7 linked regions of the Homo sapiens genome follow. The protein of the gene in region 2 purifies or fractionates together with the protein of the main gene of each other region. This does not show direct contact. Each region holds a gene or a part of one and is shown on either strand. Other genes may lie near its edges.

Region 1 (3,023 bases), on a different chromosome or scaffold from region 2:
GTAACCAGTCTTGAGGGTTTGTTGGGACCATTCCCAGGAGAGCTGCGTACAAGGGTGAAGCACTTTAGCACGAGGAGGCTGTGGGTACATTGTCAGGGTCAGGGGCTGAAGAGCTGAAGGGCAGTGTGGGCTGTGCATCAAAAAGAGGCAACCAAAGTCAGTTAGTGCCCCAGTCCTCATGGAGAGCTCCAGAGAACCCCAAGAGCTCACAAAGGAGTCAACAGTTAAATGCCTGTCTGCACAGAACACACCAATGGTACCTTAATCACGTAAGCTGAGACTTTCTTCGTTTAATATGCCCTCCCCCATTCCAATCCTAGAAGAGACAGGAAGTAAAGAATGAGTGAAATAATGACCATGTTCTCCCAAACCACTGAGGTAGAGGAACAGCAGCTTTAAACTGGATAAGTTGCTGACAGGTTCCTGAGATGTGGGAAAGGGTGGGGATGAAAAGCATCATACATACATATGTATATATAATATTATATATTATACATATATATAATTGTTTTATTTATTTATTGAGACAGGATCTCAGTTATCCAGGCCGGAGTACAGTGGCACAATCATAGCTCACTACAGCCTGAAATTCCTGGGCTCAAGCAATCCTCCCACCTCAGCCTTCCTAGTAGCTGGGATCACAGATAAGAGCCACTGCACTTGGCCCAAAAACATATTTAAAATGTTAATACTTTAGATTGGTTTCAGTCATGTTATAGGGAATAATGGAACGTATTTATACCAGAGTATTAACAATGTAGAAGGACCCTTGAAACGAAGCCAAAAAGATAGGGGCTGTGGCAATTAAGGAGACTTCCAAGAAGTCTAATACTAAGTAGGGCATCCCTGCTTAATCAATAACACTTCATTTCGTGACCATGAGACAAGAAAACTACAGAGACCTCATCCCTAACATCCTTCAGCTCCAGAACCAATGCCAAATCACCTAACTCCAGGTTATATGACAAAAAAAAACATCTGTTTAGGACATTCTTTAGTGGGATTTGTTTTTCCGGTCACAGTCACAATGACGGATTTAAAAAAAAAAGAGTATCTCAACTTCCTATTGGGAGTACATGTTTTCCCCTGATTTTAAACTCATGGGACAAAAAGAAAGTGTTGACTGGCATCTGGCAAGATAATTAAATATCTGAAACACCCTGAAGGAAACAAAGAGGGTACTGTGGTCAAGAGTAAGGTGGACAGGATACCATAGAAGATATATCCAGTGTATATAATGATAACTGCTAAAACACCCTCAAAACTCACTAGCAGAATGTAATCAAGTTTATTTTCTTGTTCAAAGTCCAATATGGATGTTTTTGGTCAAGTAGCTATTATGCCCTAAATAGTAACTCAGGTATTCAGACTTCTTCTATGCTATGACTCCATCACCGTCAAAACATGTGCTTCAAGGTTACCTTGAAGAGGAAGGAGGAAGAGAATAATGGAAATGGCTCAGCCACCCTTTAACTGCCTTGGTCTAGTATTGAAACATCACTTCCACTCATTTTCCACTGTTGAGAACTACTCACATAGGCCTAGATGCATGGAGCTGGGAAATGCAGTTTACCTGTGTCCAGAAAGAGGACATTTGGGTGAGCATCTGGCCAGTTTCTTCCACAGAAGCAAAGGTAATAGTGGTATGAATTCAGGAAGATGAAAATGAGCTCACTGGGGAAAGAGTATTCAAGGAAGATGGAGCATGTGCAAAGACTCTCAGTAGAAACAGTTTGGAAAGCTTGAGGAATAAAAAGCAAGTCTGTGTGGCTGGAGTTTTGTGAAAGGGGAGGAGTGGGTTAAGATGCAGATGGTGATGGTGACGGAGGCCTGGGCAAGATCACACGGGGCCTGAAAAGTTTGTCTTTTGTTCTCGAGGCAGTGAGAATCCATTGAAGGATTTTAAGCAGAGAAGTGACATAAGCTGATTTACATTTTAAAAAGATCACATGGCTGTGTGGAAAATTAATTGCTTTAGGGACACGAGTAGAAGCAATTAGACCACCAGTAAGGCAGTTACTGCAGGAGTTGGGTATCCTAAAACCAGATGGCTGGTCAGAGAATTCACCTGGGAAGGAGGATGACCAGGGGATGAAAGGTTCTAATTACTGGTCTCTGTGAAAAGCTGTAGAGAGTTTTGTGCAGTTACATAAATGGTTGGGTTTGGAGCTGAGCGGTGTCTCTGCCAAGATCATGTTGTTTCTTTTAGAACTGTGTTCCCTTAGGACTGGACTATATTATGGGAACAGAAGCTGGAGCACACCAATAACTGCAGAAGCAGTAACTATTTATTTGGAGAACTCTCAAAGGGATGCTGAACAAGCATGAGGCACGGATAACCAAACCCAATTTTATTCTTGTCTCTTACCACCCTCCAAATTTTATTCACTGGGAGGTACTCTCCCTGCTATGGAGAAAAGCTGCAGCGAGGTTGTGATGTTCTTAATAGATAGTCCTGTGATCAGTTTAAGGAACAAACATAATCTCAATTAATTAGAATGTCTAATCCTGTGTAACAATAATCTGCACCTGTTGCAGTTTTAAATCCCTTTTTCCTCTCCCAGCTCTGCCCCAGCTAAGTCTAGGAGCCTGCACTGGGAAAGGGAGGAGTGATTGGTATGCTCTTCCCTCTGCTCGGCTCCTCTCTACCTAATCACTGCTGATTGCTCTGGGCCCAAGTGATGAGGAGAGGTAAACAGATAAATCATTTTGCCCTGACTGGGTATTTCTATGCACTGTGGGCCTGGAAGATATTTCCTCTCCCCTATTCTCACTCTCAAATGATAAACTGGCTTCCTGCTCCCCTGAAAAAAAATCAAAGCAATCAGAAATGAACTTCTGGGGCCCTATCAGGAACTCTGGAAGAGGGCTTTCATAATGGAGCAACCTCTTACCACTGCCATTTACCTCAAACAGGCCCTCCACATTACTCAGCAATCCTTACCCCACTGCATTCTGAGTTCTCTCTCATCTCAATAGCACTCGACAGCTAACAACCTGCCCATCCTCCCATAAAAAAAAAA
Region 2 (2,316 bases):
ATCAAGGACAAACAAATCACAAGCGCACAAATCTGATGAGTGCCAGGTGGGGTGCACATTTGGGAAGATGCCCCCACGTGGCTCTGAAGGCTCTTCCTGGGGGAGGCCTGCTCTCAGCTGCCTGCTCCTTCGGGAATTCAAACCCCAGGCAAAGGCAGCTGACCCCAGGCAAAGGCAGCTGGCCCCAGGCCAGAGAGGTCCTGGCTTCCCAACCTTGAGCTGTGCAGTCATTACCTAGGTGCAGGCTGGGCTACAGGGACAGCCAAGCTGAGCAAGGACAGGTCCCCGCAGCCTAGACTGGGGCACCGCTTCGTTCTCGGTCTCACTCCCCGCTGTGCCGTGCTTTGCCTGTGAGACGGCGGCGCTGGGCCTTGCTGGTACGAGGGGCCCTTGGGGGCTTTTTGGAGTCCTGGGCCCGTCGGGGATGTTTCCTCTTGACCTTTTTGCGGCTGTGTGCATGTAGTGATGCTGTGAGGGAGGAGATCCTAGGGGAGGGCAGAAAGCCTCAGTTTAAGATTGCATTGTGGGGTGACTCACCACCTGGCTCACGGAGGGGATGTCAGGACAGGTTGCGAATGCCAGGACCGCCAAGTTCATGCCAGAGTTGGCCTGCTCTACCTCCAGAGTGCCTGCCAGCAACTCAGCTCAGAGACACAGGCCCTTCACCCAGGCACGAAAAGCACTGGAGGTCAGACACTATCAGGGGTGGGTGGGACAGGACGGGGCAATGAGGAGAGGCAGAGGATCACTGGACAGGCAGAGGGCTGCTCCGGGCCCTACACCTGCTCCACACCACCCTAAGGGCCAGGTCACTACTGCCAGCCAGGAGGGGTGGGACCGGGGAGGCAGCAGGCCAAGACTCACCGCTGAGAGAGCAGGGGGTCTCTGGACTTCCTGGGCAAGGCTTTGGTTGGTTTCTCCGTGGATGACGCCTCCTCCTCAGACCTGTCTCCAGCCCCTCCCTAAAGAGGCACAAGACAATGACTTACATGGAGCAGTAGCTGGGGGGACCTGGGCTGGGCACCCCGAGCCACCATGGCTCTGGCAAGTGGTGGCGCGCCCTGCTGCATCACAGGCCTGGGTTGGGACTAGAGAAGGCTTCTGATGGAAGAAGTCTATCTGCCCTAAAGCAAGGATTACACAGGGGAAGGTCTGTTTCCAAACCCTTTCCTGCCCCTAGAAGCTTCCAGGACATACTTAAACATTCAGGAATGAAAATCCTAGCAAAACGGGGACAAGACTTGTCTTTGTATCAGAACTTGCAGAATAGTGAGCATAAAATGAAAGACCGGTGTGAGATCAGTATGGTTTTGTTTTGTTTTGTTTTTTGAGATGGAGTCTCGCTCTGTCACCCAGGCTGGAGTGCAGTGGCACAATCGTGGCTCACTGCAACCTGCGCCTCCTGAGTTCAAGCAATTCTCCTGCCTCAGCCTCCCGAGTAGCTGGGATTACAGGTGCACGCCACCATGCCTGGCTAAGTTTTTTTTGAGACGGAGTTTTGCTCTTTTTGCCCAGGCTGGAGTGCAATGGCACGATCTCGGCTCACCACAACCTCCACCTCCCAGGTTCAAGCTATTCTCCTGCTTCAGCCTCCCGAGTAGCTGGGATTACAGGCATGTCCCACCACACCCAGCTAATTTTGTATTTTTAGTAGAGACAGGGTTTCTCCACGTTGGTCAGTCTGGTCTCGAACTCCCAACCTCAGGTGATTCGCCCGCCTCGGCCTCCCAAAGTGCTGGGATTACAGGCATGAGCCACTGCGCCTGGCCCCCTGGCTAATTTTTTTACTTTTAATAGAGACGGGGTTTCACCATGTTGGCCAGGCTGGTCTCAAACTCCTGACCCCAGGTGATAACGCCCGCCTTGGCCTCCCAAAATGCCGGGATTACAGGCGTGAGCCACCATGCCTGGCCCTGAGATCAGTATGGATGTGATAGGGGAGTGGCTCCAGGACTTAAGAACACAGTAACCCACACAAGGAAATGTGTTTTATATCGTAATTGTGTGCATATATGTCCATAAATCCTTAGGCACACCCAGATACAACTCCAGTGGAAACAGCTGTCTCATGAAACAATATTTAACATGACACTTTCGGATATTTTCAATTATATTTTTTTTTTATGCTGATTGCAACCTACTCATGATTCACAACCCACAGGTTGAAAACCCACTTAGTGCACACAGACGTGCCAGGGCTGCGAATCGCACAAAGGGAACGATCACAACAAACGGCTACCTTTTGTGAAGCACTTATGACAGGGCTGGGCACTGTGCCAGGTGACTCACATGGATTAACCACTTTCACCCTCATAC
Region 3 (3,500 bases), about 20 Mb from region 2:
ATTTTTATGAATACGCTGAACAAAGCAAATCAGTTTATTTGTCCCCCAAATATTTTGATTTGTTCAAACAAGAATTCAGTCAGAGTCCCCATGATGCGTGTGGTGGTGCTTGGTGGTGCCTTAGTTCCTTTGACATGGGACAGCCCCTCCCAGCTCTTCATTTCTCATGAGTTGAAAAGGCTGGGCCAGGCCCGATGGCTCACGCCTGTAATCCCAGCACTTTGGGAGGCTGAGGCAGGTGGATCACGAGGTCAGGAGATCGAGACCATCCTGGCTAACATGGTGAAACCCTGTCTGTACTAAAAGAATACAAAAAATTAGCCGGGTGTGGTGGCGAGCGCCCGTAGTCCCAGCTACCTGGGAGGCTGAGGCAGGAGAATGGTGTGAACCCGGCAGGCGGAGCTTGCAGTGAGCCGAGATCGCACCACTGCACTCCAGTCTGGGCGTCAGAGTGAGACTCCGTCTCAAAAAAAAAAAAAAAAAAAGAAAGTAAATAAAAAAAATTAAGAAAAAAAAAGGCTGGACCAGCTGCCCTGTAGGATGTCTCACCTTCTGGATTGATTTTGTTTTCTCTGATATCACTGAACTTAATTAACCCTCTGATCCCTGTGTTTCCTGTGAAGTGGAAACTGAATCTACAGGGCTCAGTGATGAGGGCTGAGTATTTTTGAGAAGAAGTCCTCACTGGTGGTGTGTGTGTCACATTGCGTCCCATCAGGAGGTCCTCGATGTCGGGTTGGCCCACAGTTAGCGATGCTGAGATTGATCGCGGCCTTAGGCTGGCGACCCTGGTAGTTACGTCCCCCCTTGTGACTATAACAGTGGTTCTTTGGCTCTCGGCGAAGATCCAGTTCCCCATCAGTCTTTCACCTAATGGTGTTGGCGTTCTTGTCCAAATCAATCACGTAATTAGAAGATGGAATAGGGCAATATTTGATAATCTATTATTCGGTCCACATTGCTTAGCAGACATTCTTCAATTAAAGAAAAAAGAGCCTTCTCTAACTAACGGGGCTGTCTGGATAGGGACAAATGAGTTTTTCTCTGGGGGTTTTCTTTGAGGACTTGTGGGTTTTCATCTTGCATCCTGCTTCACTCAAATGCTGCCATCAGTACTTGTGAGGCTCAGGTTGTCTCATCTTAGGCAGCAGGAGCCTCTTCAGGTGCTTGGGCAGCCCCTTGGTTAGCCTCCGTGCCTCCAGGCGCTATGCGACATTCCAGGCTCATCTAGCACACTCCCCACCCTGGACCTGGACGCCTCCGTCTCTCCAAGGAGCCCAGTTCCTGTTAGCAGGGATCTTCCTTCTCTCTTGATTGGTGTAGCTACTTTTCACTTTTGAGAGCACCTATGAATCTGTCAGTCATTTCTGAGTCTATTTTATGCCTCCAATTATTCTTATGAGCTAGTTCAATAGGAAAAATAGCTCTTTCTAAGGGGTGTGTGTGTTTGCACGACGGGGGCGGGGGAGAGAGAAAGAGACAGACATTTTGTAAAAGACTGGCATATGTATTAGTGTGAGATTAATGAGGGCATTAAAAGAGGCTAAAGACGTTGTCACCATGCTAGTGGTTTTCAGGTCCCCCAAATCCTTGACTCTTCCTCCCATGATCTTCGATTTTCCCAAAATATCCCTGCGTCCTCCCTGGAAAGCCCCAGAATGTTCCAGAAGTGAGAGCAGGCTGGGGGCCGGGCAGCACTGTAGGCAGGACTAGAGGGTGGTCGGGATGCGGTGGTGGTGAGGGGGCGACAGACCCAGAAGGCTGAGGGTTAGGACCACAGAGGACACTGTCACTTAGAAGGAAAATACATAGGATCAGGCCCCCCTCGGGCCTCTCCAGTGTCCCCTCAGCTTCCACACCTCCCTGGGAAGTCACAGCCACATGCTGAATGTGACGCCGTGGTCTGGGTGGATAACTCGCTGGTTGTGGGTGGTTTCTGGATGCAGATGCTGCTTTCCTTAGGCCTGAATTGAGCCCTCAGATGGAGGCAGAGAATAGACCCCACAATAAAGGAGAGAGGAGCAGGGACCTGAGAGCTCCCTCTACGTGTGCTACTTCCCGGTGCAGAAAAATGCTACCAGGTAGTACCGTAATGAAAATGATAATGGCAAGACAGCATCAACAACTGTGGCTAACTTACACTTTTCAGATGAGGAGAGGCTCAGTAACTCAGCCCAGGCCACACAGCACAGCAAGTAAATTGAGAAGGCAACATGGGAACCTGGGGCCGTGGGCAGCTCTGTGGGTGAATCCCCTCCCTAGCCACCAGGCTCACGGAGATCCAGCGGGTTGCGACCCCCGTCGGGCTGCCCCACGCTCACCCCTGTGCTCATCCTCCCTCAAGGCAAGGACCAGGTGTCGCTCAGCTGTAGCACAGAGACAGGACTAGAGTGGGGGCACAGTTGTAAAATTGAACTAGGGGGCAATGGTCCTGATGCTCTGACCCCGCAAGATGCTACTCAGGGCAGCTGCCCTGCTCTCCATGCCCAGAATTTCTTCCACGTCTCCAGGAGCCCCACACTTTGACGTGGACTCTACTGGCTTCTGTGCCCAGCCGTGCCCTCTGGAGGCTCTGCCCCTGGCTTGGGTTACCCGGAGCTGGAAAATGCCAGGGCAGGTCATGGGTAAAAATAGAAACCCACAGACCTGGCACATGCTTCCTGCTGGGCTCAGGCGGCTGCCCCAGGCACAGTGTCGCCTTGTGTGGGCCACTGCTTCCCCAGGGCAGGGTGTGGGTGGGAGGATGAGTCTATCACGCCTACGTGTGCACGTGCACACACACACACACACACTGTCTCTCTCCCCACCCCCCTTTTTCTTTAATAATTTCAACTTTTATTTTAGATTCAGGGAGTACATATGCAGATTTCTTACATGGGTATATATTGTGATGCCAAGGTTTGGGGTACGATTAATCCTGTCACCCAGGTAATGAGCATAGTACCCAATAGTTAGTTTTCCAATCTTTGCCCGCTTCTTCCCTCCCCGCTCCAGTAGTGCCCAGTGTCTACTCTTGCCATTTTTCTGTCCATGAGTACCCATGTTTAGCTCCCACTTATAAGAACATGTGGTATTTGGTTTTCTATTCCTGCATTAATTTGCTTAGGATAATGACCTCCAGCTGCATCCATGTTGCTGCAAAGGATATGGGTTCATTCTTTTTTGGGGGCTGCGTAGTATTCCATGGTGTATATGAATGACATTTTCTGTATCCAGTCTACCATTGCTGGGCACCTGGTTGATTCCGTGTCTTTGCTGTTGTGAATAGTGCTGTGATGAACGTGTGAGTGCAGGTGTCTTTTTGGTAGGATGATTTTCTTTTGGATATATACCCAGTAACAGGATTGCTGAGTGAAATGGTAGTTCTGAGTTCTTTGAGAAATCTCCAAACTGCTTTCCACAGTGGCTGAACCAATTTACATTCCCATCAGTGCACTCCCCATCTTAAGCTGTTAGTACGAATACCAATCAGGCAATTGTGGCTTCACATCAGCTTTACT
Region 4 (3,500 bases), on a different chromosome or scaffold from region 2:
CGCCCAGCCCTGCCAGCACGTGCTGTTCGCCCCACCCGGTGGACATAATGTTTGATGGTATTAGGCATTGTGAAGTTGATTACCTAGAAGGTCAAAAATGAACGTCAGGCCTGGCAAGGGAAGGGGGGTGCGAAGAGGCAAAAAGACTTCCACCAAAAGTCCAAGGAAGATAGTGTCTGCTCACCGTTTTGACCCCCTCAATGTCAAGTCCACGGGCTGCCACATCAGTGGCCACGAGGATGTCAATCTGTTCATCCTTAAAACGCCTAGAAACAGTCACAAACAGCTGTTCATCCAGACACCCTCCCCTAATAATGCTCCACAAGAGCCTGAGCCAGCAGAGGACAGAACAGGGCATTAAAATGGGGATAGAGGCTGGGCACGGTGGCTCACGCCTGTAATCCCAGCACTTTGGGAGGCCGAGGTGGGCAGATCACGAGGTCAGGAGATCGAGACCATCCTCGCTAACACGGTGAAACCCCGTCTCTACTAAAAATACAAAAAATTAGCCAGGCATGGTGGCGGGCGCCTGTAGTCCCAGCTACTTGGGAGGCTGAGGCAGGAGAATGGCGTGAACCTGGGAGGCGGAGCTTGCAGTAAGCCAAGATTGCGCCACTGCACTCCAGCCTGGGCGACAGAGCGAGACTCCGTCTCAAAAAAAAAAAAAAATAGGGATAGATTCTAAATGTGAGCACATGGGATATTTACACCCACCCTTCAACAACCCATCATACAGAGCAAACGTAGTTCTGTATCTGCTAACAGCATAGGCAATTGTCTCAGTTTAAATCAGCCTATCTTTAACAAACACCTTTCAGCACCCACTGATGAACAGGGTTAGGTGGAGAGTTCTAAAGGGTTCCTCCTTGCCAACCACCTTGATGCCATTCTCTGAGGACTAAACAAGAAATCACATGGAAAGCACGCAGCACAGTGCCTGGCAAAGTAGATGCTCAAGTAATGGCTGCTAACTTTGACTCTAAATCTTGTTCAATCAGACCCAGGAATGTTCACCACTCTCAGAAAGCTTCCAAGAAGAGACCATGTGTTGCCTTTCCAAGCCAGCTTCCTCTGTCACGCCACACAACAGCTCCCATGCTAGGGACAAGCATCCAAGGACATGAGGGTCATCTCTGACTATGAAGTTAGAGTTCTAAACACATCTAAGACATGACCTCACAGTGGTTAGGTTAAAATGTTCAAGGCCAAGATCATGCTATGTGTCCCCTGCTAATGTTCTAATAGAATGCTCAGGGTCCTCTTCTTCCTTCTATCCTCTCTGCCCCAGAAGGATGGTGGGAGCCTCAGTCCCCACCCCAAATGTTACCGGAGGGCCTCCAGCCGCTGCGTCTGTGACAAGTTGCCATGGAGCTCACCCACCTGCAGCCCCATGAGCCCCAGGAGGATGTGCATGCGGTGGGCCTGCTTCTTGGTTTGCGTGAACAGCATCACATGGTCAGTGAAGGTCCTCGTCAACAAAGCTGGCAGGAAGAGAGGACTGAGCTGGCAGCTGTTTCTAGGCTCTTATTCAACATGTACCCCCTCCTCATCCACAAAGTATGGTCACTGTGCCTGGCACTGGATAGACAGGCACTGTCCCTGTCCTGTGGAACTCAAATTCCAGGGTGGATACAGAGAAGCCAATTCCTGGGGGGTGAAAAATGCTGTGAGAGAGAGTGCAGGGACGAGGGGGAAGCAGCTAAGGGCTGGCCTCTCTGAAGAGGTGACATTAGGTTGAATGACAAGGCAGATGATCCATGGGAAGATCCAGGGGAAGATTCTAGACAGAGGAAATGGCAAACATGAAGGCCCGGAGGCAGGAACCAGCTTATAGTGAGAAGTGCAAGCAGGCGGCTGGATGTAGTGGCTCATGCCCGTAATCCCAGCACTTTGGGAGACCAAGGAGGACAGATCACTTGAAGCCAGGAGTTCAAGACCAGCCTGGCAAACACGGTGAAACCCCATCTCTACTAAAAATACAAAAATTAGCCAGAAGTGGTGGCAAGTGCCTGTAATCCCAGCTACTCGGGAGGCTGAGGCAGGAGAATCGTTTGAACCCAGGAGGCAAAGGCTGCATTGAGCCAAGATCGTGCCAGTGTACTCCAGCCTGGGCGACAGAGCAAGACTCTGCCTCAAAGAAAAAAAAAAAAAAGTGCAAGCAGGCGAATGTGGCTGGAGCCATGAGCAAGCCTCCAAGGCTGGGATCCCGGGCAGGCAAGGGCCAGGCCCGAAGAGTCCTAAAAAACTAAGATGTTTGGATTTTAGTCTAAGACCAATGGAAGCCACCGCAGGGTGTTCAAATAAGGACATAATAAGTACGAATGTCTTCTGCAAGCAATCATTGTAAATGCTCTGCAATGCAGAGAGTCACAAAAGGCCGAGTGGAAGCAGGGAGCTCGAGCAAGAGGCTGCGCAACGATCCAGGCGACAGAGAACAGTGGTCTGGACTGACGGGTACAACAGCAGCTGATGCCAAGTGGTTGGGAGTTGAACAGGACACAAAGAGGATTGGTGAGGCGATAAAGCAAAGGGAGGAAGGACCCGTGGAGAAGAGAGGCAGCGGATCATCATTAGTGCAGTGCAGCCTCTGCGCTGGGGAAGACTGGACGGCAGAGGCGCAGGGGAAACCAAGCACTTCAGCATGGATACTACGAGCTCAAGGAAGCTGACCAGCCCACCCTGCCCAGGCTTGCCCTGTGCTGCCACCTGCCACGATGGCTTCCCGGTCTCCTTCACGATTAGGCCGGATCCGGATGAACTCCTGCCGCAGGAAGGGAGCCACATCTGTGTTGCTGTTCACAAATATCCGGACAGGATTCTTCAAGGAGACAGAAGCCAGATCTTTCACCTGCCAAGCACAAAGCCAGGTTTCCTCAGCTCTCTGCAAGGTGGTAGGGAAGGAGGAAGCAGTGCTCACCCCAGGCAAACCCCCTCAAGCCCAGCCAGGGTCCTCTGCATGGCCCCCTCTGGGCACACCTGCCACCCGCCACAGAGAAGTCCCTCGGCCCACCTCGTCTGTCATGGTGGCCGAGAAGAGCATGGTCTGGCGGTGGTGGGAACACATTCGGATGATCTCCTTCATCTGCTCCTCAAAGTACTCATCCAGCATCCTGGGAGCAGAGAAAGACATGGCAGAAATGGAGAGAGTGCTCTTCGGTCACAGTGAGGGACACGGGATTGCATACCGGCTGCTGTTTGTTGTCATTGGTTACATTTAGGACTCATCTATTTTATTATTTTATCTTTTCACCAAGAATTATCATTTTGCCACATTTGCTTTGTCTTTTTGTGGCAAGTCAGTCACAGATGTTATAACACCTTACCCCAAATATTTCAGCACACAACTCCTAAGCACTAGGACCTTCTCTTACAGAAACACAACTTCATCAACACACCCAAGACTTTCAAGTGCGTGAATATCTAAAGCACAGGCCACGTTCAAATTCCTTCAGCTGCCTCCAGGTTCCAAGTGTCTTTTTTTTTTTTTTTTTGAGATGGAG
Region 5 (3,500 bases), on a different chromosome or scaffold from region 2:
AAAAAAAAAAAAAAGAAAGAAAGAAACAAAAAAGAAAAGAAAATATTTAAGGCATATGCAATAGAATCAAAGGGACAAAATATATCATTCATCCTTTTCTTAGTCCTTGTTCACACCCTTCCCCCACTCTGACAGCTATTTCAAACGTTTGCCACTCTAAAAGCCTGGTTCTCTCTCAGCTGATGTCCACATCTTATATTTTATCCATTCATTACACAAACATTTATTGAATTTTCATTATATACTAGGTACCATGGTAGACACTACATGAAAATGAGTATGACACAGCACCTGTCCTGATGAACTCCCAGACTAGTGGAAGAGAGAGACATTTAAACAAATAAATTAAAAGAACAGCATAAACTCTGGTAGAAATACGCATGGGGTGTCATGGAAACAGAATGGGTATCTTAATCAGCTTGGGGGAGGTATGATAAAAAGGTGACATGAGGGTTGGGCAAGAATGATCAGTAAAGGCTCTGTGTTAACTACAGCACTGGGGATGGAAGGGCCAGAAAGGGTCTGGAGGTCATTTCAGAACAGAATGAGCAACAAGAACAAAGGCACGGAAATAAGAAGTGGCCTGGTATGTGCAGCAAACCAAAGGCAAACTGGTATGGCTGGAACCTGAAGTATGACAAAGGGAACAGCCATGAGTCAAAGTTGGAAAGGCGCAGAGGCCAATGCATAATGAGCTGCGTAGGCCATGGTAAAAAGCTTAGATTTCATCCAGAAACGATGGGTTTAAAGCAAGAACTTAAACTGCATTTCAAAGAGATCACTCTGGAGGGGATCTGGGGCAGGAAAATCACTGCAATGGTCCAGGCAACAGATGATGAAGGCAATGATAAAGAGGGACGGAAGAGAGAAGACACAGGAGGCAAAATTAGTAAGACTAATTAGCAGCACTAATTGATTAGGTACACAAGGACAAAGAAGGAGGAGGCAAGTTAGAGAGCACAAGAGTAGGAGCAGGCTTACAGTAGAAGCTGATGAGTTCAGCTTTGAATACAATGCATTTGAAATCTCTCAAGTCTAAATCAATAGAGAAATCCAACAAACAGCTAAATACACCAGACCAAGATGCAAATACTGATTTGGAAATCATGTACATATAGGTCATAGTTGAAAACATGACTAGGTAAGAATCAGCCAGAGGGAGCACATAGAGTGAGAACAGCTAAAAATTATGGATGGAGCCCTGGGAAAGACTTAAGAGGTGCACAGAGGAAGAGGAGTTTGCAAAGGTGGCCAAGAATGATCAGAGAAAAGAACCAGGAGTAGGGTGTCATGGAAAACAATACAGGGGTGAATTTCAAGGAGGTAGTGAGTGGACCTCAAATCCCTTTAATTACCATGCATTCTCTTGGTCTTCTTATCTAAACTTCTTAAAAAGCCTGTATTCACTATTTGTTTCCTCACTTTTCATTCACTCCTTAATACATTAGAACCTGGCCATTGTTTCACTACACAACGGAACTAGCCCTTTCAGGTCATCACTGACATTCCTTGTTGCCAAATCCAATGACTCCTCCTTCCTCTTCCCCAAATCAGCAAACAGGTCCCACCAGCTCACCCCTGACCACATCCCCACTTCCTATTCTCTTACTAACCATCCTTACTACCACTGCCTGCAAGTCGTAGTTCAGACACTCATTACTTTCAGCCTGAGCTACTGCAAAAGCCTTGTATCTGTTCTACTTCCAATCTTGTACCTTTCAAATCCTTCATATTACTGCTATAATGGATTTGTCTATCTAAAATGCAGAGCTGTTTTTAATCCTTCCGTGTCTCCCCTTTACCTCTAGGGTGAAGACCAAGCTCCTCAGATAGGCTTCCAGGGCCTTCTGTGATCACGGTCTGCCAACCTCTCTCATCCATCTCACGCTTTATGCTATCCAACAACAGCAAATTACTTAGGGACCCCCACCACCTGGTAACACCATGGTGTCTCATAGCCTTATGACTCTGCACATATAGGACCCTCTTCCTTTAATATCCTTCCTTTCCTTCTTATCTTGGCTGGTTACCAACATCCCTTAAAACTCAGCTCCCACATTTCATCCGTTAGGAAGCACTTCCTGATCACTCACATCCTCCTAAGGCTCAACTTACTCTTCCTTTGTGCTCCCAAAACATCTTGAAAATCTTCTATAGTAACACTAACCAAACAGCGTTGAAACTGTCTGTCTTCTATTCTAGATTGAAAGTGAGCTCCTGGGCTCAGGGGCTATCTCTCTTTAATCATGGAATCCCTAGTACCTACTACCTAGCTGCTTACACTTATAACATGTATGCTAAGACTTTCCCTTAAGGGATGAGTGGAGTGAGTAACAGAGGGCTTTAAGAAGGGAAGCTTGGCCGGACATGGTGGCTCACGCCTGTAATCCCAGCACTTTGGGAGGCCGAGGCAGGTGAATCACCTGAGATGAGAAGTTCGAGACCAGCCTGGCCAACATGGTGAAACCCTGTCTCTACTAAAAATACAAAAATTAGCTGGGCGTGGTGCTCACGCCTGTAATCCCAGCTACTCGGGAGGCTGAGGCAAGAGAATTGCTTGAACCTAGGAGGCGGAGGTTCCAGTGAGCCAAGATCGTGCCATTTTGCACTCCAGCCTGAGCAACAAGAGCGAAATTCCGTCTCAAAAAAAAAAGAAGGGAAGCTTATTATAAATGGCATCCTCTCCAACCTTAGAAGCATGGATGGTATTCCAAAGCACCAAGGAAACCACTGTTTTTTACCTTGGAAATAAGGTCTTAAGAGAGTTACACTAATATGATAATACAAAGGACATATGAATAACAAACACCAAATCCTAAGCAGAATCAGAAAACAAATTGCAGGAGAACTCACAGTGGAAAGAGCTTTGGACCAGAGAATCAGGAACGCAGAGTTCTAATTCCAGCTTTCTCAGGGAAATTGCATGACTCTAGGCAAACTGCTTATTTATTGGGCCTCAGTTTCTCTTTTTTTTGAGACGGAGTCTTGCTCTGTTGCCCAGGCTGGAGTGCAGTGGCACGATCTCGGCTCACTGCAAGCTCCGCTTCCCGGGTTCACGCCATTCTCCTGCCTCAGCCTTCCGAGCAGCTGGGACTACAGGCGCCCGCCACCACGCCCAGCTAATTTTTTGTATTTTTTTTAGTAGAGACGAGGTTTCACCATGTTAGCCAGGATGGTCTCAATCTCCTGACCTCGTGATCTGCCCGCCTCGGCCTCCCAAAGTGCTGAGATTATAGGCATGAGCCACCGCACCCGGCCCCGTTTCTCTTTCAATTAAGAGAGGCTGGGTAATTATCTTATGGGTTTTTCCAACAGATACTATATATCTGTTCCGGAAATATTCCCTTGCAGCAGGCCGAAAAGAGACAAAACTAGAAAAGATGATGAAAGATGAATAACAAAAAGAAAGCAAGGGTGACAAAGGGAAATAAGAGAAGAAATCTAGGATAAAATCAGAACAAGAAGTGGAAAAAAGCAACTGAGAAAAATGAAGACAAATT
Region 6 (2,666 bases), on a different chromosome or scaffold from region 2:
CGAACTCCTGACCTCACAGTCCGCCCACCTTGGCCTCCCAAAGTGCTGGGATTATAGGAATGAGCCACTGCGCTTGGCTGGGACTTACGTTTCTAACACTGCATAATTTTAATTCTTTTTTTTTTTTTTTTTTTTTTTTTTGAGATGGAGTCTCACTCTGTCATGCAGGCTGGAGTGCAATGGCGTGATCTTGGCTCACTGCAACCTCCGCCTCCCAGGATCAAGTGATTCTCCCACCTCAGCCTCTGGGTAGCTGGGATTATAGGCACCTGCTATTGTGCCCAGCTAATTTTTATATTTTTGTAGAGACGGGGTTTCACCATGTTGGCCAGGCTGGTCTTGAACTCCTGACCTCAGGTGATCCGCCTGCCTCAGCCTCCTAAAGTGCTAGGATTACAGACATGAGCCACCACGCCCAGCCACATTTTTTAAAGAATCAGCTAAGTCAAATAAACCATCCACAATGGAATTCTGTGTAGCTGTAAAATAGAAAAAAGATTTGCTGACATAAAATGATCTTTAGAATATATTAAGTGAAAAAATGTAAAGTGTGTATAAGGTGTGTATATGTTGTCTTTTGTATAAGAAAGGTGAGCTGGGCATGGTGGCTCACGCCTGTAGTCACTTTGGGAGATAGAGGTGAGCAGATAACCTGAGGTCAGGAGTTCGAGACCAACCTGGCCAACATGGTGAAACCCTGACTCTACTAAAAATACAAAAAATTAGCTGGGCATAGTGGTGCATGCCTGTAATCCCAGCTACTTAGGAGGCTGAGGCAGGGAGAATCACTTGAACCCGGGAGGCGGAGATTTCAGTGAACTGAGATCACACCATTGCACTCCAGCCTGGGTGACAGAGCGTGACTCTGTCTCAAAAAAGAAAAAAAAAAAGAAAGGTGGGGAAGAGAACATACGCTGTAAAGCATGTGTATGCAATCTCTTATGAAAGAAAGATAGGGAAGGTGACATTTGTATTGCATCAAAAAAATGGGAAAAAACTAATATGGTTTCTACAAGGTAGATTGGAAAAAGGTGGCAGCAAGACTTCTCTGTATTCCTTTATTAATATTTTGACTTGTTTGTTTTTTGAGATAGGGTCTTGCTGTGTTGCCCAGGCTGGAGTACAGTGGTGCCATCATGGTTCACAGTAGCCTTGAACTCCTGGGCTCAAGTAATCCTCTACCTCAGCCTTCCAAGTAGCTAGGACTACAGGCAGGCACGCGTGCCACCAGGCCAGGCTAATATTTGTATTTTTTGTAGAGATGGGGTCTCACTATGCTGCCCAGGCTGATCTTGAACTCCTGGGTTCAAGCGATCTCTTGCCTTGGGCTCCCAAAGTGCTGGGATTACAGGCATGAGCAACCATGCCTGGCTGATATTTTGACTTTTGAATGATGTAAGCTTACCTCTTCAAAAATATTCCTTTTTTTTTTTTTTTTGAGATGGAATCTCGCTCTCTCGCCCAGGTTGGAGTGCAGTGGCACAATCTCGGCTCACTGCAACCTCTGCCTCCCGGGCGATTCTCCTGCCTCAGCCTTCTGGGTAGCTGGGATTACAGGTGCGTGCCACCACGCCCGGCTAATTTTTGTATTTTTAGTAGAAACAGGGTTTCACCATGTTGGTCAGGCTGCTCTCAAACTCCTGACCTTGTGATCTGCCCGCCTCGGCCTCCCAGTGCTTACGATTACAAGCGTGATCCACTGTGCCCGGCCTCAATTTTTAAAGTTAGTTTAATCTCCGAGAAATCTTCCTAGACTTCTCCAAGCTGGGTTAGAAGCTCCTGTAATGCACACCGTATTTGCATGACAGTATGTCACACTTAGCTGTCTGTGGCACTAGGAATTGAGACCAGGGGGTGAGTCTATTGGTCTTGTAACCTATAATGTAATTGACAAGAGCAGGAGCCCAGTATTTGTTAAATTAATGCTTCTGTATTTCTATAGAAAGCAGAACCAGAAAGAAGAATGGGGAGAAGGAAGTATTCCCGCCTAAGGAGGCACCCCGAAAGGGGAAGCGAGGCCGGAGGCCCAGCAAACCCCGACTGATTCCTAGGCAGACGTCCGGGGGCCCCATCTGCCCTGACTGCGGCTGTACCTTCCCTGATCATCAGGCCCTGGAGAGCCACAAGTGCGCCCAGAATCTAAAAAAGCCTTACCCTTGCCCAGACTGTGGGCGCCGCTTTTCCTATCCATCCCTGCTGGTCAGTCACCGGCGGGCACACTCCGGCGAGTGCCCCTATGTTTGTGACCAGTGTGGCAAACGTTTCTCCCAGCGCAAGAACCTCTCCCAGCACCAGGTCATCCATACAGGGGAGAAGCCCTATCACTGCCCTGACTGTGGTCGCTGCTTCCGGAGGAGCCGGTCCTTGGCCAATCACCGGACCACACACACAGGTGAAAAACCCCACCAGTGCCCTAGCTGTGGACGTCGCTTCGCCTACCCCTCCCTGCTAGCCATCCACCAGCGTACACACACGGGAGAGAAGCCCTACACTTGCCTCGAGTGCAACCGCCGCTTCCGCCAGCGCACGGCCCTCGTCATCCACCAGCGCATCCACACGGGCGAGAAGCCCTACCCGTGCCCGGACTGCGAGCGGCGCTTCTCCTCCTCCTCTCGCCTGGTCAGTCACCGGCGTGTGCACTCTGGGGAGCGTCCCTATGCCTGCGA
Region 7 (3,500 bases), on a different chromosome or scaffold from region 2:
TCAATAAGGAATGAGCTCCGACTGAAACTTTTTCCACACTCAATACAAAGAAAAGGCTTCTCGCCAGTGTGAATTTTTTGGTGTTGTATAAGGTATGTGCTTAATCGAAAGGCTTTCCCACATTCACCACATTTATGGGGTCTTTCCCCAGTGTGAATTCTTTGATGCTCAACAAGCAATGAATTTCGACTAAAGCTCTTCTTACATTTGGTACAGTGATAAGGTTTCTCACCAGTGTGAGTTCTTTGATGCTCAATAAGGTGTGATTTCCAACTGAAGGCTTTCCCACAGTCACTACATTTATGGGGTTTCTCACCTGTATGAATCCTTTGATGTTTAACAAGGCTCCTTCTCTGGCTGAAGCTCTGTTTACACTGATTACACTGATAGGGTCTTTCTCCAGTGTGGATTCTCTGATGTCTAATAAGGGTTGAGCTCACACTAAAGGTTTTTCCACAGTAATTACACTCATAGGGCCTTTCCCCAGTGTGAATTCTCTGATGTTCAATAACAAATGAACTGCGACTAAAACTTTTCCCACATTCATTGCACTGAAAAGGTTTCTCACCAGTATGGACCCTTTGATGTTGAATGAAATGGGCCTTGCGGACAAAACCCTTTCCACATTCTTCACATTTATGGCATTTCTCTTCTGAGTTTGGTCTTTTACGGATAATGTTAGTGTTTTCTCTGAACATTCTCTGTTCCTGGGTCAAAGATTCCCTTGGTATTTCCCATAGGAAGATCCCTCTTTGTTTATCTAACCTACCAACAAGTTCAAATGTTTCTCTACCCATAGGATCCTGGTCAATTTCACTTTTGATTCTTGTAACTATTACACCCTGTGGTTCCACTTCTTCCTCAATTTCTTCAATCTCTTGTTTTACAGTTGGCTCCTCATCCTTATCTCTGTTCAAAACATCTGGAATAATAAAAAGGAAATACAAAGATCAACCAAGGTCTTTGAAGCAAGGAGAAACAAAGTAAGATGGGCAAACAAAGAAACAAATAAAGTCAAGGTGGGATTAATCAGTCTATCAAGGAAAACAGGGTAGGATGAAAAAAAACTCCACTAAGTTCAAGAAAATTAAGGATGAGAAAGCATTATTGGAATATGATCAGACCAAATAATTAACAGAAGGGACCAGATGCTAATGGCCAGGCATAGTGGCTCATGCCTGTAATCCCAGCATTTTGGGAGAGTGAGGTGGGAGGATCACTTGAGCTCAGGAGTTTGAGACCAGCCTGGGCAACAGTGAGACTTCATCTCTACAAAAAAAAAATTTTTTTTTAATTAGCCAGACATGGTGGTACACACCTGTAGTCCCAGCTACTCAGGTAGCTGAGGTGGGAGGATTGATCACTTAAGCCCAACAGGTTGAGGCTGCAGCAAGCTGTGTTTGCGTCGCTGCACACCAGCCTAGGCAATAGAGTGAGACCTAATCTCAAAAAAATAAAAATAAAAATAAAAAAAGATGCTAAGAAGGATAAAAGACAAAGATCCAGGGGAAACAATAATTCATTCATTAACAAGCATTTACTCACTGCCCATCAAAAGCACTCCAGAAACATTGTAATCAGCCAGGATTCAGAGATAAGACATGAAGCCCCCCTGCCAAATGGAATGGATGTTAAGTAAAAAATGGGGAAAGAAAATAATATGATAAAGAAAATATTAAGTAAAAAGCAGCTCCTGTATAAAGAGACAAAATGGCTTTTAAAAACAATAATAAAGGGTTAGGTGACAGAGAGTCTATGATATCGAGATGCAGAATAAAATAAGTATTAAGAAACATGGTCAGAGTTCATGGGAGCAACAACCAAAAAGGGCAGTCTGTGGTAGCTTATGACTTTACCTACCACAAATCATACCTCAAGTACATGTGATTCTAAACCCTCTAACAATATAAGACCCAAGGTTCACCATCTTGTTCCAACTGAGAGGCTGCATGACATCTGAGAAATGAAAATCTTGCATGTGTTGAAGAAAAGACAGCACAGTGGTCTATGATATAACAGAGTGTCATATAGTACATCTAGGCCCGCTTCGGACATCTTCCTGATTTTCCATCTCTTGCTGGAATAGATATTAGATAATTCCGCTAGAAGATTCAATAATGACCACATTTATATTTGGCCCTAAACAAGCTCCTTTTTCATACATCCTCTTTTCTCTCAATTTTTTGTGGAGTCATCTTTGAATTTTCTATTTGCTTACTTCATTATTTTATTCTAAAATAACCTTTTCCTATTCCCCTAAGAAACTACTAGAAATTTTATTTCTTCTAAGGCTTTTTAGTGTCCCCTCTCAAATTTTTCAGTGGGCTGTATTTTCTTTCACATAATGAAAAAACATGAAAGAACTCCCTCAACTTTCTGTCCTCTACCTATAAAATTATCTGCCAATGGTACATAAAGATATATCTGATTCTTATGCAAGGCTAATCCATCCATCACTTACCGATCCTACTCACCTCTGGGCATTTGCTTAATTATCCCGTCTTTCCTCTTTCTTCAATACACACTCTCTATTGACACTTTCCTACCATTACATAAATATGTCCAATTTTATCTTGAACCTGAAATCCTTCTCTTTATGAAAGCCAAGCATTGAAAAAAAATCTTAACACCGAGGTTTTCTATTTCTTATGTTTTCCAAGCCCAACCTCTTCCTATTCAATCTATTCTGCAACCTGTGGCGAAATCTGGTTTCTGTTTCCAGCATCTAGAGAAACTTCTCATTAGATTACCAATGACTCAAATAAAAATAAAACGGGCATTTTTTTTTTTTTTTTGAGACAGAGTTTCACTCTTATTGCCCAGGCTGGAGTGATCTTGGCTCACTACAACCTCCACCTCGCGGGTTCAAGCAATTCTCCTGCCTCAGCCTCCCAAGTAGCTGGGATTACAGGCACCCGCCACTGTGCCTAGCTAATTTTTTTGCATTTTTAGTAGAGATGGGGCACCATGTTGGTCTCGAACTCTGACCTCAGGTGATCCACCCACCTCAGCTTCCCAAAGTGCTGGGATTACAGAAGTGAGCCACCGTGCCTGGCCTAAAATGGGCATGTTTCAGTCCTTATGTTATTCAGCAGCATCTAACACTGTTGACCACCCCTATTTCTTGACATTATCTGTTTTTGGTTTCTACACTACCACATTCTTTTATTTCCTTCCCTACTTCTTTGGCCTTTTCTGATAAATTTCCCTCATTTATTTCTTTTCCTTTGTCAACTGACTTTTGTTATTGTTACCCACATTTACATCCTTACTTGTTCTGTATATACACCCTCCAGATATCTCCAGTTAAATGCCTCACAAAGGGCTCACAATTAACATGGTCATCATCATCTGCTTTCATGCCTTTCCCCACCTTTAATTATCTCTTGAAAGGCACCATCATCCATTACCCTATAGTCTCAAAGCAGCAATCATCCTGTATTTCTCCCTTCTTCTCACGTTAATCAATCATCCAAATCCTGGATTTCTCTCTAGCACCT

Evidence for each region.
Region 1: the proteins of NOL12 (region 2) and RRP8 purify together in Homo sapiens (affinity purification with mass spectrometry; 4 studies listed by BioGRID and IntAct, with this or other methods). This does not show direct contact.
Region 3: the proteins of NOL12 (region 2) and TUBA8 purify together in Homo sapiens (affinity purification with mass spectrometry; 3 studies listed by BioGRID and IntAct, with this or other methods). This does not show direct contact.
Region 4: the proteins of NOL12 (region 2) and DDX27 purify together in Homo sapiens (affinity purification with mass spectrometry; 3 studies listed by BioGRID and IntAct, with this or other methods). This does not show direct contact.
Region 5: the proteins of NOL12 (region 2) and BUD13 purify together in Homo sapiens (affinity purification with mass spectrometry; 3 studies listed by BioGRID and IntAct, with this or other methods). This does not show direct contact.
Region 6: the proteins of NOL12 (region 2) and ZNF689 purify together in Homo sapiens (affinity purification with mass spectrometry; 4 studies listed by BioGRID and IntAct, with this or other methods). This does not show direct contact.
Region 7: the proteins of NOL12 (region 2) and ZNF189 purify together in Homo sapiens (affinity purification with mass spectrometry; 3 studies listed by BioGRID and IntAct, with this or other methods). This does not show direct contact.

The regions. Positions count from the first base shown.
Region 1 is NC_000011.10:6,594,572-6,597,594, forward strand, and holds the end of RRP8 (ribosomal RNA-processing protein 8), read right to left. Parts: 3' UTR 501-3,023; downstream 1-500.
Region 2 is NC_000022.11:37,689,343-37,691,658, reverse strand, and holds part of NOL12 (nucleolar protein 12), read right to left. Parts: intron 963-2,316; coding exon 865-962; intron 486-864; coding exon 323-485; 3' UTR 1-322. UniProt on the Homo sapiens protein: Multifunctional RNA binding protein that plays a role in RNA metabolism and DNA maintenance. Participates in the resolution of DNA stress and the maintenance of genome integrity by localizing to sites of DNA insults.
Region 3 is NC_000022.11:18,117,309-18,120,808, forward strand, and holds part of TUBA8 (tubulin alpha-8 chain), read left to right. Parts: intron 1-3,500.
Region 4 is NC_000020.11:49,232,916-49,236,415, reverse strand, and holds part of DDX27 (probable ATP-dependent RNA helicase DDX27), read right to left. Parts: intron 3,111-3,500; coding exon 3,011-3,110; intron 2,849-3,010; coding exon 2,707-2,848; intron 1,482-2,706; coding exon 1,328-1,481; intron 267-1,327; coding exon 185-266; intron 84-184; coding exon 1-83. UniProt on the Homo sapiens protein: Probable ATP-dependent RNA helicase. Component of the nucleolar ribosomal RNA (rRNA) processing machinery that regulates 3' end formation of ribosomal 47S rRNA.
Region 5 is NC_000011.10:116,748,988-116,752,487, forward strand, and holds part of BUD13 (BUD13 homolog), read right to left. Parts: intron 1-3,500. UniProt on the Homo sapiens protein: Involved in pre-mRNA splicing as component of the activated spliceosome. As a component of the minor spliceosome, involved in the splicing of U12-type introns in pre-mRNAs.
Region 6 is NC_000016.10:30,604,724-30,607,389, reverse strand, and holds part of ZNF689 (zinc finger protein 689), read left to right. Parts: intron 1-1,942; coding exon 1,943-2,666. UniProt on the Homo sapiens protein: May be involved in transcriptional regulation.
Region 7 is NC_000009.12:101,405,351-101,408,850, reverse strand, and holds part of ZNF189 (zinc finger protein 189), read right to left. Parts: exon of another isoform or gene 1,553-3,500; coding exon of another isoform or gene 1,546-1,552; intron 1,440-1,545; coding exon of another isoform or gene 1,319-1,439; intron 923-1,318; coding exon 1-922.